2 linked regions of the Homo sapiens genome follow. The protein of the gene in region 1 interacts with the protein of each later gene in a biochemical or structural test. Each region holds a gene or a part of one and is shown on either strand. Other genes may lie near its edges.

Evidence for each region. The genes of interacting proteins can lie anywhere in the genome.
Region 2: the proteins of MAD1L1 (region 1) and CENPE form a complex in vitro, tested with the Homo sapiens proteins (one study listed by IntAct).

The regions. Positions count from the first base shown.
Region 1 is NC_000007.14:1,935,944-1,942,968, reverse strand, and holds part of MAD1L1 (mitotic spindle assembly checkpoint protein MAD1), read left to right. Parts: intron 1-2,397; exon of another isoform or gene 2,398-2,881; intron 2,882-6,071; coding exon 6,072-6,282; intron 6,283-7,025. UniProt on the Homo sapiens protein: Component of the spindle-assembly checkpoint that prevents the onset of anaphase until all chromosomes are properly aligned at the metaphase plate.
Region 2 is NC_000004.12:103,188,328-103,195,352, forward strand, and holds part of CENPE (centromere-associated protein E isoform 1 precursor), read right to left. Parts: intron 6,907-7,025; coding exon 6,787-6,906; intron 6,358-6,786; coding exon 6,276-6,357; intron 6,115-6,275; coding exon 6,047-6,114; intron 5,968-6,046; coding exon 5,902-5,967; intron 1-5,901. UniProt on the Homo sapiens protein: Microtubule plus-end-directed kinetochore motor which plays an important role in chromosome congression, microtubule-kinetochore conjugation and spindle assembly checkpoint activation.

The DNA.
Region 1 (7,025 bases):
GTTCCTGGACTCTCCACTGTGTTGTTGGTCTGTACGTCGGTCCTCATGCCCACACCACACCATCCTGATTGCAGTGGCTTTGTAGTAAGTTTTGAAATCAGGAGACTGAGTCTTCCTCCCGTGTTCCCCCTTTGCAAGCCTGTGGTGGCTCTTCTGAGCCCCTGCAGTTCCGTGTGAGTTTCAGAATCAGCTTATCAGTTCTTCAGGGAGGCCGGCTGAGTCCTGGGATTGTACAGAATGTGCAGATCAGCCCTGGGAGTCTCTGGTCCCGACAGCGCCGGGTCTTCTGATCCGAGACATGGGATGTTTCCTAATCACCTAGATCCCGCCTAGTTTCCTCCCATGCTGTTTTGCTGCCTGTGTGTTTGAAATGGCTCCTCTTGGTGGGGTGGGTGCAGGAGTGGTGCTGTTTGTATAGGACATAGGGCCGTCCTCCCATCCCGACACTCGGCTGCCCTGGAGACGGGCCTCAGCACAGGGCTCCCATTACCCCTGCACTTCCAGCACCTGCTGAAATGTGTGGCGCGCGGGCTCCGAGGCATGGAATGGTGTGCCTGACTCTGCGCTGCCCAGGCTGTGGTCACAGCAGCAGGCTGGAAGTTTGGCTGTCGCCCCCAGCCACCTTGGGGCACGGTCCTGTCTCACCTGGAGCAGAGGTCCTGGGCCCCCAGGGGCTCAGGCGTGGCCTCCTTCTGGAGGGGCCGGGAATGTCCCCTCCACTTGCTGAGTGTTGGCCCAGGAGGCTCCTCTGTGGGATGCCAGCTGCTCCCACCATGAGTGGCAGCTCCACCCCTGTATTCACAGCTGTGCTGAGGGCATCCAGGGCCTGGAAATCATGTCAGATGGACAGACAGGTGTGCGGGTGGATGGACTAAGGGAAGAAAGGAAGGATGGCAGGAACGAACGCGTGGAGGTCAAGAGCCTGGCCCAGAATCACGGTGGGGACGTGAGCGGGTGGGTGGTGCCCAGTCTGCCCCTCCCGTGCTGCCTCTAGGGGCTCTGCCTTCTCCAGGCGTTAGGCAGGGAAAGTCCCCTGAACTTACAGAAAGACGACTAGGTGCCTGGAATGTTGCCATCTGCACAGAGCCCTAGCGCCTGTCCTCCCACTTCCCTCGCCCTCCTGGGAGGTGGGTTCTCCACGCCACCAGTTATGGAGCCCAGGCTTGTTCTCAGCCCTGGTCAGCGGTGCCATCGCAGGTCGCTCCAGCCCCAGCCGCAGGTGCCCAGTGAATGCTCTCCGTGACCCAGGGCCTCCTGCTGCAGGTGGAAGCCGGGCCACGGGAACCTGCGCCGACCTTGGCCTCACACTGTGGCTCCGGGAGAGCAGGACCTGGTGGTGCATGCGTAGCGGCTGAGGAGGACAAGCCTGGGGGCTGGTCCCAGCCCGGACACGGTGGCTTTGCACACACCAAGCCTTCGCCCCCAGCGGGGCCAGCAGTGCAGGGCGCTGCACTGTTGGGGGCCAGAGGGTGACAGGATTGGTGTTTAAGAAGAACTTCTCAGTTTTATCTTTTCTCTGTTTTGATTTGGTTTCCTTCATCTCTACTGGCTTGGGCTTTTGGTCCTTAAATCCTCTAATATACAGAATTGTTTCCTGGACCTCAAGCCCCCCATCAGGGGGGAAACCTCATCCCAGGATGATGGGCCGGTCGTGGGGCACCCTGGCTGGGGGCTGGGGGCTGGGGCTGTGCCTCTGGCTCTCGTTCCTGCCCGTGGAACGTTGAACGTTGCCAGGACATCCACCCCGGGGAACTTGACGTCCTCAGGCACTGCTGGGTCCAACGCCAGCGCTGGGCGCACCACCGCTGACCCCCGACCCCTCCTGCAAGTCCCCCTATCTGCTAAGTAGGAGGATGCTGGGGCCAGGCGAGGCCTTGCTGGGCAGCCTCTAGGATGGTCACTACCTCCTCCCACCTGGAGGTCCCTTCAGGAGGTCCGCGGTGTTGAAGCCTGGGGAGGAAGAGGAGGCTGAGGCCTGGGAGAGGAAGAGGAGGGTGAGGCCTGCGGGGGGAGGAAGAGGAGGGTGAGGCCTGGGGGAGGAGGGTCTCACTGCTCTGGGTCAGAGGAGGGCTGAGTACACGCTGTGCGGCCTGGTTCTTGCCAGGGGTCAGCTGACTACAGCCCCGCCTTCTGTGCAGCCCCTCAACTAAGAACCGTTGTACATTTTTGAAGGGTTGAAGAAAATCAAAAGAAGAATATTTTGGGACACACGCGGGTTATCTGAAATTCAGATTCGTGTTTCCGTGCCCGCAGCTCCGTCAGCGGGGCCCATGCTGGCCTTGTGTGCCCTGCGGCTTTCTGGGTGCAGTTGCAGCGCTACGTGGTTAGGACGGGGGCAGGGTGACTGCACAGCCCCGTGACTGGCTGCTCTCCGCAGGAGGCGGCCCCACCCTCTGCCCACATCCTCCCTGGCTCCTCGAGGCTCCGTAGGATGGTGAAGAGGTTGAGATGCTGTCCAGCCCACAGAGGCCCCGGAAAGCCAGTGCCGCCCGTCAGAGGGGTCTCCTGAGTGCGTGTGGGTGGCTGGATTCTGCATACTGGGTTATCTTAACCCCGGCTGTGAAAACTGGATGAAGTAGCAATCCTTTCAACCCCAAGAGTCTGTGATTCAGCCAGAGTTACAAGATGTCTCTTCATCCTCTGAGGTTTACAAGGTTCTCAGAAAACCTGTGAAGAGCTGCGCGGATCCTCTCCTGCCCCGGCCCAGCGGCAGGGCTGCCGCCTCCCTCTCCCCTGGGCCTGAGTGGGTGGATTTCCCCTCCCCTCCTCCTTCCCAGGAGAAGCACAGAGGGAGCGGCCAAGCGAGCCGTGTCTGCAAACCCCGCTTCCCTCTGCGGCGGCCTCTGCCATCGTGCCATGGGGCCGGAGGTCCCTGGTCCAGGTCAGCATGTCCATCTCCACTGGCCTCTTCCATGAGGGGGGTGGCAGGGCCAGCAGTTAGCTTGTGTGACGTGACGTCAGGGGGATGTCTTAGAGTCCGGGGTGGCACCAGGAGGGGTGAGGTCTCTTCCCTTCTTCCCCATCCTCTCCTCTCTCCCTGTTGGAGGCACATTCTGGGCTCTGGGACCACGATTGCCCATGGCTGATGAGCTCCAGCCCAAGTGAGGTCCCCAGGGTACAGCCCAAGCCAGGCCTCGCCGTCCTTCGGGGACTTGGAGAGCAGTGGCCCACAGCAGCCTGAGCTCTTGGGAGGCTGGAGGCTTACTGCGCCCGGTCTCTTCACCCCGTGGGGTGTGTCCACACCGGCCTCTCCTGAGAGCGTGGGGTGATCTGAACACAGGATGTGTTTCCCTGTTCCCCTCTGGGAGATAGGAGAGTGCGTGGGCAGAAGCCCCAAGGGTGGCAGGAACTCATTGCCAAAGGGGAGGAGGCCATTGCTATGCGTGGTGCTGGCCTGGCTTGCTGGGTCATGTCTGTGCCTGACATGACCCATGTCATGACCATGGTCATGTCTGTGCCTGACATGACCCATGTCATGACCATGGTCATGTCTGTGCCTGAGGGACCGGGTGCCCATCCAGTCTCACTGCCCCACAGCTCACAGCCACAAGCTGCAGAATCTCAGCACTTGGCGGGAGCCCTGGCCCGTGTGTGTGCGTGTGTGTGCGCCGCTGGCTCCAGCCCTGGCCTGTGTGTGTGTGTATGTGTGTGTGTATGTGTGTGCGTGCACCGCTGGCCCCGGCCCTGGCCCATGTGTGCGCGCGCCTCTGGTCCCGGCCCTGGCCCGTGTGTGTGTGCCTCTGGCCCTGGCCCGTGTGTGTGTGTGTGTGTGTGAGCGCCTCTGGTCCTGGCCCTGGCCCGTATGTGTGTGTGCGCCTCTGGTCCCGGCCCTGGCCCGTGTGTGTGTGCGCGCCTCTGGCCCTGGCCCGTGTGTGTGTGCGCGCCTCTGGTCCCGGCTCTGGCCCGTGTGTGTGTGTGTGTGCCTCTGGCCCCAGCCCTGGCCCATGTGTGTGTGTGTGTGTGTGTGTGCGTGTGTGTGCGCCTCTGGTCCCGGCCCTGGCCCGTGTGTGTGCGCCTCTGGTCCCGGTCCTGGCCTGTATGTGTGTGTGTGTGTGTGTGTGTGTGCGCGCCTCTGGCCCCGGCCCTGGACTGTGTCCGTGTGTGTGTGTGTGTGTGTGTGTGTGTGTGCCTCTGGCCCCGGCCCTGGCCCGTGTGTGTGTGTGCGCCTCTGGTCCCAGTCCTGGTCTCTGTGTGCGTGCGTGTGTGTGTGTGTGTGTGTGTGCGTGCGCGCCTCTGGCCCCAGCCCTGGCCCATGTGTGTGCACCTTTTCATATGTTTATCAGCTTTTTGGGTGTCTTTTTGGGAAGTGTCTGCTCACATGTTTTGCAGATTTTTAGAGTGGGTTGTCTGACATGCCCTTGGTTATTTCTGACATGCCCTTGGTTATTTCTGACATGCCCTTGGTTATTTCTGACTTCTTCGTATGTTCTGGATCTGAACCCTTTCTCAGAAATGTGATTTTCAAACAGCACCTCCTGCTCTGTGGGTGCCTTTCCACTGTTTCAGTGGATGAAGTTCTTAATTTCTATAAGGTCAGTTGTACTCTTTTTTTTTTCTTTTACGGCCAGCACTTCCTGAACCCTGTTTGAGTAACCTGTGTCTACTCCCAGGAGACAGAATGTGGTGGAATTGATGTTTGTGTGTGATGTGAGGTCGGGGTCTCAGGTGTGCAGTGACCCTGCACCTCCCTGCCGTGGGCGGCTGTTGTTTGTGTGTGGCGTGAGGTCGGGGTCTCGGGTGCGCAGTAACCCTGCAGCTCCCTGCCGTGGGCGGCTGATGTTTGTGTGTGGCGTGAGGTCGGGGTCTCGGGTGCGCAGTGACCCTGCACCTCCCTGCCGTGGGCGGCTGATGTTTGTGTGTGGCGTGAGGTCGGGGTCTCGGGTGCGCAGTGACCCTGCACCTCCCTGCCGTGGGCGGCTGATGTTTGTGTGTGGCGTGAGGTCGGGGTCTCGGGTGCGCAGTGACCCTGCACCTCCCTGCTGTGGGCGGCTGATGTTTGTGTGTGGCGTGAGGTCGGGGTCTCGGGTGCGCAGTGACCCTGCACCTCCCTGCTGTGGGCGGCTGATGTTTGTGTGTGGCGTGAGGTCGGGGTCTCGGGTGCGCAGTGACCCTGCACCTCCCTGCTGTGGGCGGCTGATGTTTGTGTGTGGCGTGAGGTCGGGGTCTCGGGTGCGCAGTGACCCTGCACCTCCCTGCTGTGGGCGGCTGATGTTTGTGTGTGGCGTGAGGTCGGGGTCTCGGGTGCGCAGTGACCCTGCACCTCCCTGCTGTGGGCGGCTGATGTTTGTGTGTGGCGTGAGGTCGGGGTCTCGGGTGCGCAGTGACCCTGCACCTCCCTGCTGGGGGCGGCTGTCCCCTGCTGTGGGCGGCTGTTCCCTGCTGTGGGCGGCTGTCCCCTGCTGTGGGGGGCTGTCCCTGCTGCAGGGCTGCATGGTGCTTGTTGCTGGGGGTCGGTCACCCACCACAGGTCAGCAGGCTGGGCCTCCAGGCGCACTCCTCCCTCAAGGATGCCACACACATCCCGGCCCTGGGTTTCGTGGGAACATCAGGTTGCGAGGCGCATTCCTGAGCCACCCACGCTGATGCCAGGCTCCCTTGCCTTCCATCTCTGTGTGGTTGACCTTGTTTCTCTTGTGGCACGGGGCACCTTCCAGGCTGGTAGGGAAGAGATGGGAACATGGCCACACGGGCTCCCAGTCTCATCCCAGCCAGGAACCTCAGAGGAGAGGAAGCCTCCCTCCCGGGCACTGAGTGTGGAATTCTGGGAAGCACCGCACTTGGCTGAGCAAAGGCCGCATGTCCCCTCTCACCCTGTTCCTGTGGTTAGGCAGAAGGGACCCAGCAGGTGGCCAGGCCTTGTTCCTGCACCTGTCCACAGGGCACAGGGAAGGAGCCACTCCTTCCAGGAGAGATGGCTGCCAGGCAGGCTCAAGAAGACAAAAGAACTGAGCACTGTGCTGTGTGTGACCCGTGCTGTGTGTCTTCCTGGGCCATGGTGACCCATGCTGTGTGTGACCCGTGCTGCGTGTGTGCCTGGGCCATGGTGACCTGTGCTGTGTGTGTTCCTGCAGGGTGACTATGACCAGAGCAGGACCAAAGTGCTGCACATGAGCCTGAACCCCACCAGTGTGGCCAGGCAGCGCCTGCGCGAGGACCACAGCCAGCTGCAGGCGGAGTGCGAGCGACTGCGCGGGCTCCTGCGCGCCATGGAGAGAGGAGGCACCGTCCCAGCCGACCTTGAGGCTGCCGCCGCGAGTCTGCCATCGTCCAAGGAGGTGGCAGGTAGGCACCCCCCACCCCCGGTCCCTGCCATCCTCGACCTTCCGTGGGTAGGTCCATCCGTGCGCCTTTGGGGCAGCCTCAGGCGCCCCTGCCTGTCATCCCCAGAGGGTTTGTCCTCCCCTGTGGGCAGCCGGGTCTGGTGGTTGCTGGGGCAGAGCACCCTGGCCCCGTGTCCCCATGGCCCCGTGGGGTTGTGCAAACAGGTGGAGCCATCCGAGTCTGCAGGCAGCTGTGGAGAAGCAAGGGGCTGAAATTTCAGGCCCTTAAACTAATTCGTATCATTTGTCAGTTTATATGTACCCCATTAATCACAAGTAAATCCAGTCCTCCACGAAAACAAGTCCATCTCTCACCAGCTTAAGTGTGCTTCATGGCGTCCAGAGAGCCCTTTGAGGCCAAGGCCTGTGGCGTCCCAGGGAAGAATGAGGCCTCCATGAGGGCCAGCAGGGCCTGCCCACACCCTCCAGGTCTACATGAGGCCCACGGCCTTTGGAACGCCAGCCTATCCCCTGATGTGGGGAGGTGGTGCTGGGGTCTGCCCACGCCAAGCCTCGGAGGGTGCTGCCGGGGCTGTGTCGACTCTGCAGGGTGCCCCTGAAGGAGCAGGGCTGGGAGTCCAGAGTCACTGTGCAGTCTGCACCCCCAGCGAGGCTGTGGGGCTCAGGAGACCCCTGCCCCCTGTGTTGCTCTCTGCTGTTGGAGGGAGCTGGGCACTGCCCCACGCTCCTGGTTCTGGGGGGACC
Region 2 (7,025 bases), on another chromosome or scaffold:
TCAACAGAATATACATTCTTCTCAGCACATCACACTTATTCCAAAATTGACCACATAGTTGGAAGTAAAGCACTCCTCAGCAAATGTAAAAGAACAGAAATGATAACAAACTGTCTCTCAGACCACAGTGCAATCAAACTAGAACTCAGGATTAAGAAACTCACTCAAAACCGCTCAACTGCATGGAAACTGAACAACCTGCTCCTGAATGACTACTGGGTACATAACAAAATGAAGGCAGAAATAAAGATGTTCTTTGAAACCAATGAGAACAAAGACACAACATACCAGAATCTCTGGGACACATTTAAAGCAGTGTGTAGAGGGAAACTTATAGCACTAAACGCCCACAAGAGAAAGCAGGAAAGATCTAAAATTGACACCCTAACATCACAATTAAAAGAACTAGAAAAGCAAGATCAAACACATTCAAAAGCTAGCAGACGGCAAGCAATAACTAAGATCAGAGCAGAACTGAAGGAGACAGAGACACAAAAAACCCTTCAAAAAATCAATGAATCCAGGAGCTGGTTTTTTGAAAAGACCAACAAAATTGATAGACCGCTAGCAAGACTAATAAAGAAGAAAAGAGAGAAGAATCAAATAGACCCAATAAAAAATGATAAAGGGGATATCATCACCGATCCCACAGAAATACAAACTACCATCAGAGAATACTATAAACACCTCTATGCAAATAAACTAGAAAATCTAGAAGAAATGGATAAATTGCTGGACACATACACCCTCCCAAGACTAAATCAGGAAGAAGTGAATCTCTGAATAGACCAAAACAGGCTCTGAAATTGAGGCAATAATTAACAGCCTACCAACCAAAAGAAGCCCAGGACCAGATGGATTCACAGCCGAATTCTACCAGAGGTACTAGGAGGAGCTGGTACCATTCCTTCTGAAACTATTCTAATCAATACAAAACAAGGGAATCCTCCCTAACTCATTTTATGAGGCCAGCATCATCCTGAAACCAAAGCCTGGCAGAGACACAACAACAAAAGAGAATTTCAGACCAATACCCCTGATGAACATCGATACAAAAATCCTCAATAAAATACTGGCAAACAGAATCCAGCAGCACATCAAAAAGCTTATCCACCATGATCAAGTGGGCTTCATCTCTGGGATGCAAGGCTGGTTTAACATACAAAAATCAATAAACGTAATCCAGCCTATAAACAGAACCAAAGACAAAAACCACATGATTATCTCAATAGATGCAGAAAAGGCCTTTAACAAAATTCAACAACACTTCATGCTAAAAACTCTCAATAAGTTAGGTATTGATGGGACGTATCTCAAAATAATAACAGCTATCTATGACAAACCCACAGGCAATATCATACTGAATGGGCAAAAACTCGAAGCATTCCCTTTAAAAACTGGCACAAGACAAGGATGCCCTCTCTCACCACTCCTATTCAACATAGTGTTGGAAGTTCTGGCCAGAGCAATCAGGCAGGAGGAGGAAATAAAGGGTATTCAATTAGGAAAAGAGGAAGTCAAATTGTCCCTGTTTGCAGATGACATGATTGTGTATCTAGAAAACCCCATCGTCTCAGCCCAAAATCTCCTTAGGCTGATAAGCAACTTCAGCAAAGTCTCAGGATACAAAATCAATGTGCAAAAATCACAAGCATTCTTATACACCAATAACAGACAAACAGAGAGACAAATCATGAGTGAATTCCCATTCACAATTGCTTCAAAGAGAATAAAATACCTAGGAATCCAACTTATAAGGGATGTGAAGGACCTCTTCAAGGAGAACTACAAACCACTGCTCAAGGAAATAAAAGAGGATACAAACAAATGGAAGAACATTCCATGCTCATGGGTAGGAAGAATCAATATCGTGAAAATGGCCATACTGCCCAAGGTAATTTATAGATTCATTGCCATCCCCATCAGCTACCAATGACTTTTCTTCACAGAACTGGAAAAAACTACTTTAAGGTTCATATGGAACCAAAAAAGAGCCCGCATTGCCAAGTCAATCCTAAGCCAAAAGAGCAAAGCTGGAGGCATCATGCTACCTGACTTCAAACTATACTACAAGGCTACAGTAACCAAAACAGCATGGTACTAGTACCAAAACAGAGATATAGACCAATGGAAAGGAACAGAGCCCTCAGAAATAATGCCACATATCTACAACTATCTGATCTTTGACAAACCTGATAAAAACAAGAAATGGAGAAAGGATTGCCTATTTAATAAATGGTGCTGGGAAAACTGGCTAGCCATATGTAGAAAGCTGAAACCAGATCCCTTCCTTACACCTTATACAAAAATTAATTCAAGATGGATTAAAGACTTAAATGTGAGACCTAAAACCATAAAAACCCTAGAAGAAAACCTAGGCAATACCATTCAGGACATAGGCATGGGCAAGGACTTCATGTCTAAAACACCAAAAGCAATGACAACAAAAGCCAAAATTGACAAAATGGGATCTAAGTAAACTAAAGAGCTTCTGTACAGCAAAAGAAACTACCATCAGAGTGAACAGGCAACCTATAGAAAGGGAGAAAATTTTTGCAATCTACTCATCTGACAAAGGGCTAATATCCAGAATATATAAAGAACTCAAACAAATTTAGAAAAAAAAAAAACAAACAACCACATCGACAAGTGGGCGAAGGATATGAACAGACACTTCTCAAAAGAAGACATTTATGCAGCCAAAAGACACACGAAAAAATGCTCATCATCACTGGCCATCAGAGAAATGCAAATCAAAACCACAATGAGATACCATCTCACACCAGTTAGAATGGCAATCGTTAAAAAGTCAGGGAACAACAGGTGCTGGAGAGGATGTGGAGAAATAGGAACACTTTTACACTGTTGGTGGGACTGTAAACTACTTCAGCCATTGTGGAAGACAGTGTGGTGATTCCTCAGGGATCTAGAACTAGAAATACCATTTGACCCAGCCATCCCATTACTGGGTATATACCCAAAGGATTATAAAATCATGCTGCTATAAAGACACATGCACACGTATATTTATTGTAGCACTATTCACAATAGCAAAGACTTGGAACCAACCCAAATGTCCAACAATGGTAGACTGGATTAAGAAAATGTGGCACATATACACCATGAAATTCTATGCAGCCATAAAAAATGATGAGTTCATGTCCTTTGTAGGGACATGGATGAAGCTGGAAACCATCATTCTCAGCAAACTATCGCAAGGACAAAAAACCAAACACCGCATGTTCTCACTCATAGGTTGGAACTGAACAATGAGAACACGTGGACACAGGAAGGGGAACATCACACACCGGGGCCTGTTGTGGGGTGGGGGGAGGGGGGGATAGCATTAGGAGATATACCTAATGTAAATGACGAGTTAATGGGTGCAGTATACCAACATGGCACATGTATACATATGTAACAAACGTGCATGTTGTGCACATGTACCCTAAAACTTAAAGTATAATAAAAAAATAAATAAAAATAAAAAAACGTAAAACTGGAAAAAAAAAGAGAACCTTGCATAAAGCTCAGCAATGACTCTCACAATGGATCCACTATGACTACTGGGTGGAGGATGGATTGGGAAGGGGCAAGAGCAGCTGCAGGCAGCCCCATCAGGCAGCTGGGGCAGGAATCTCGGTGAGAGATAATACCAGCTTGGGTTAGGGAGGTGGCAGAGGAGACTGCTTGTAAGAGAAGCAGTGAAGGGGTGTCTTGTTTATTGTTTTTTTAATCTCAGAGCCCAACACCATGCTCAGAAGACAATAACAACTTAGTAAATATTGTGAGTGATTTGAAAGAAAGTCAAAGCTTTACGTTATTTCTCTCTGTGGAGATTTTTGAGACTAGGCAGGTAAATATGTATTACCAGTTAAGGAGGCTAATTTTTCTTGCACAGTGTCCACTACAGATGACACAGATACATAATAAAAGGGCAAAGTGGTAATGAAGGCAGCATGAGTGAAGGTTAAAGATGAGAACAAGCATTCATATTCAAAGATACTCAGAGGCCCAATCTATGAGGGAGGAGTTCATGTAGAGCAGAAGGAAATAAAGTTAGATTGGTTAAGAGTGGCCAAATCTTGCCCCAGGAAGTGATATACAAAAGCAATGGTTAGTATATTCGAAATCCTTATGATGACTTCAAGAAACAAAGACAAGGGTCATGGAGACAAGGTTCCAGGAGACTGACATAGTAATTCAAGAGAGATGAGAAAGTAAATGAGTGTAGCACCCATGGAAATGTTTAAAGGTAGGATCAGTAAGAAATGGGACAAGTGGACAAAGAGAAAGGCAGAAAAAGATGAGTCAAAATTGACTTAGGTTTCCAGCTTAGGCAGCTAGGATAATGCTGGTTTTACTGGAAATAAGGAATATTCACTATGGTAGGAAGAAAATAGTTTCGTTTTAGACATATTAAAGTTTGAGATAATGATGGGACACAATTATAACCATCTTTAGGAAGACATGAATTAGAATTCAGAGACTATAGGTAAAATATTTGGCAGTCATCAACATGGAAATGATGACAGAACATTTGAGAGCAAGAACTTGAGTAAGAAACGTCACAGAATACCTCCAAGTTTTTTTTTTTTTAATTATTTTTTTAGGAGGGTAGGGAAAAAGAAGCCAGGGTAGAAAACAGAGGAGTACAGCTAAGAGAAACTGGATATTATCATCCCACCAAGGCCAGGAGATAATCAGAAAAGAGCCACCTCTAAAGAGACAGAGATGACTCTTTAGAGACTTCTTTCCAAGAAGATTCTTAGAGTAAGTGGGTAGGCTGGAGGGTTGGAACAGATGGAACACAAATGACAGAGCATCACGTAACATGAGGAAAATCATCAAGTAGATCACTGAATATGCCAAGAGTATTAAAGCTAAATTATTAAAAGTTAAAATTATATGAAATATCACAGTCTTGGATGAGAAAACTAAAGAGGTTAGGGTTTGGTTTTTTATTGTTAAATTAAAACAAGATTAAAGTCTACTAAAATAAGTTATACAATTTTATAGCAAAATAGCTAAGGTGAAATTAGGATTGAATATTAAGTAATTAATAATCTAATTTTATAAAATCTGAAAATGAATAAACATATTATAGATTGCTTTTTTCCCTGAAGTTTTCTAATCAAATAATCTTAAATCATATCCCACATCAAGCTAAAGAATTTAGGCCCTAAAAATGCAGAATAAAGCAATATGGTAAAAGATAGAAAAGGAGCAAGAAAGAAACAGCAATAATTTAGTGTGGAAAGAAGGAAGTGAAGGTTTACTAATGTGGAATATAGGAATGTTTGCATAATGCATATATTCGCTTATTCAGCAAATCTATATTAGACATAAAATAGGTATAATGTGTTGGGGCTACCAGGATGAATGCAGTATCACTCCTCAATGGATTTACAGTCTAAAGTACTACGTTTACAATACAAAATATATTTTATTGTTGTACTTAAGTAAAACCTAAAGTAATGTGATTACTTTTTAACCATCCAACCTAGATTTTTGTTGATCACATAAGTCTAAATTACATTGGCTGAGATTTTACAAAAAGACCCTCAAATTCTAAGATGATCTAAAGTGTTAAATGTGTATAGAAAAAAATTCTACTGCATTAGTGGTTAGAAAAAACATCAATTCCTATAACCCTATAGCCCTGACATTTAAATTTTAGGAGATGGCAACCATGACATAACAGGAAGAAAGATCCTCTGAATTTTTCCTACGACATTTTAGCTAGGAATTTGATGATACTGACAAGACTAAGCAGACAATTTGTAGATTTCCTCCCACATTTAGTTTAGTTAACAGTTCTTATTAAACCAAACATCCAGCAACTAAATTAAATTTTGTTTTGGCCCATACAGTACATTATTATGGTTCATTAATACTCACCAAATGGGATACCTTAACAGATCCTTCACAATTAGAAGGTTCACCCTTCTCTCTGCTTTCCAAAATCTAGATAGAAAAGGCAAGCTGTAGAAAAATTAGTGCATTCTTACTTGGAAAGATCTAACAGATAGATAGAATTACCTACCATCCTAAAGATGGTATGAGAACGACTGCTTCTTTGATTCATTTTTGTTTCTCCATAATGCCTGCTCTCTGTAAAAATGAGTTATATTTCAGCTGCATATATAATAAAATCCATAGAAACACAATAATTTTTATTTTAACTTAAAAAAGTATGATTTGAGGTCCAAACGTGCTTGATTGAAAAGATAGTTTTTACAAGTGTTCTAAAGAAATACAGCATAAAGTCTTACTTTCTCCCTTTGTAATCCATTTCAAAGCCATTTCTGATGTATATACAACTTCTTCTGTGAGATCAGCAACATACACATTCCTCTGAAACAAGTTTAATTATGGAAAGATTAGAGAAATAGAAGTCACAAGTTTGCTTTTCAAAAGAAGGTGCAAACTATTATAGAATTCATTTGTGAAAGTTAAAAGTGGCAAATGGAACCATAATTCTGTAGGAATGTAACAAATAATTCTATGAATACCCACAATTTATTTCACATACCAAAGCACAACAAATTCTAACCTGATACTTCCAACTTGCTATTTTTACACTTAAACCAAAATATTAGAGCTGTCAGTATTTTAAAACTATTCATATTGTTTAAAAGATGAATATAAATACTTCAAAAAAACCCTCACATACTATAGAAATAGGAGACACTTTAAAAACTATAGAAATTAAAGGTAAACATTCAAGAACAATAATCTCAATAAGTCAGTCAATTTTAAAGCTCCCTTAAGTCTGCTACTCACATTGACATCTTCTCGAATAATTAAAGGTTTCATTTTTTGAGTGCCACAGAGTAAATCTGTAATGGTTTCATTGTATATTTCCATGTAAGATACACGTAAGAGAAATTCCCTATCAGGAAACTAGAAGAAAAAAAATTATATAAAAACACCAGGAAGCATCCAATTGTGAAAACCTAATGCTAAATGCTCATGTGCTTAAAGAGGTAAAATGTATGTAAAACAAACTAAGAAACCCCTTG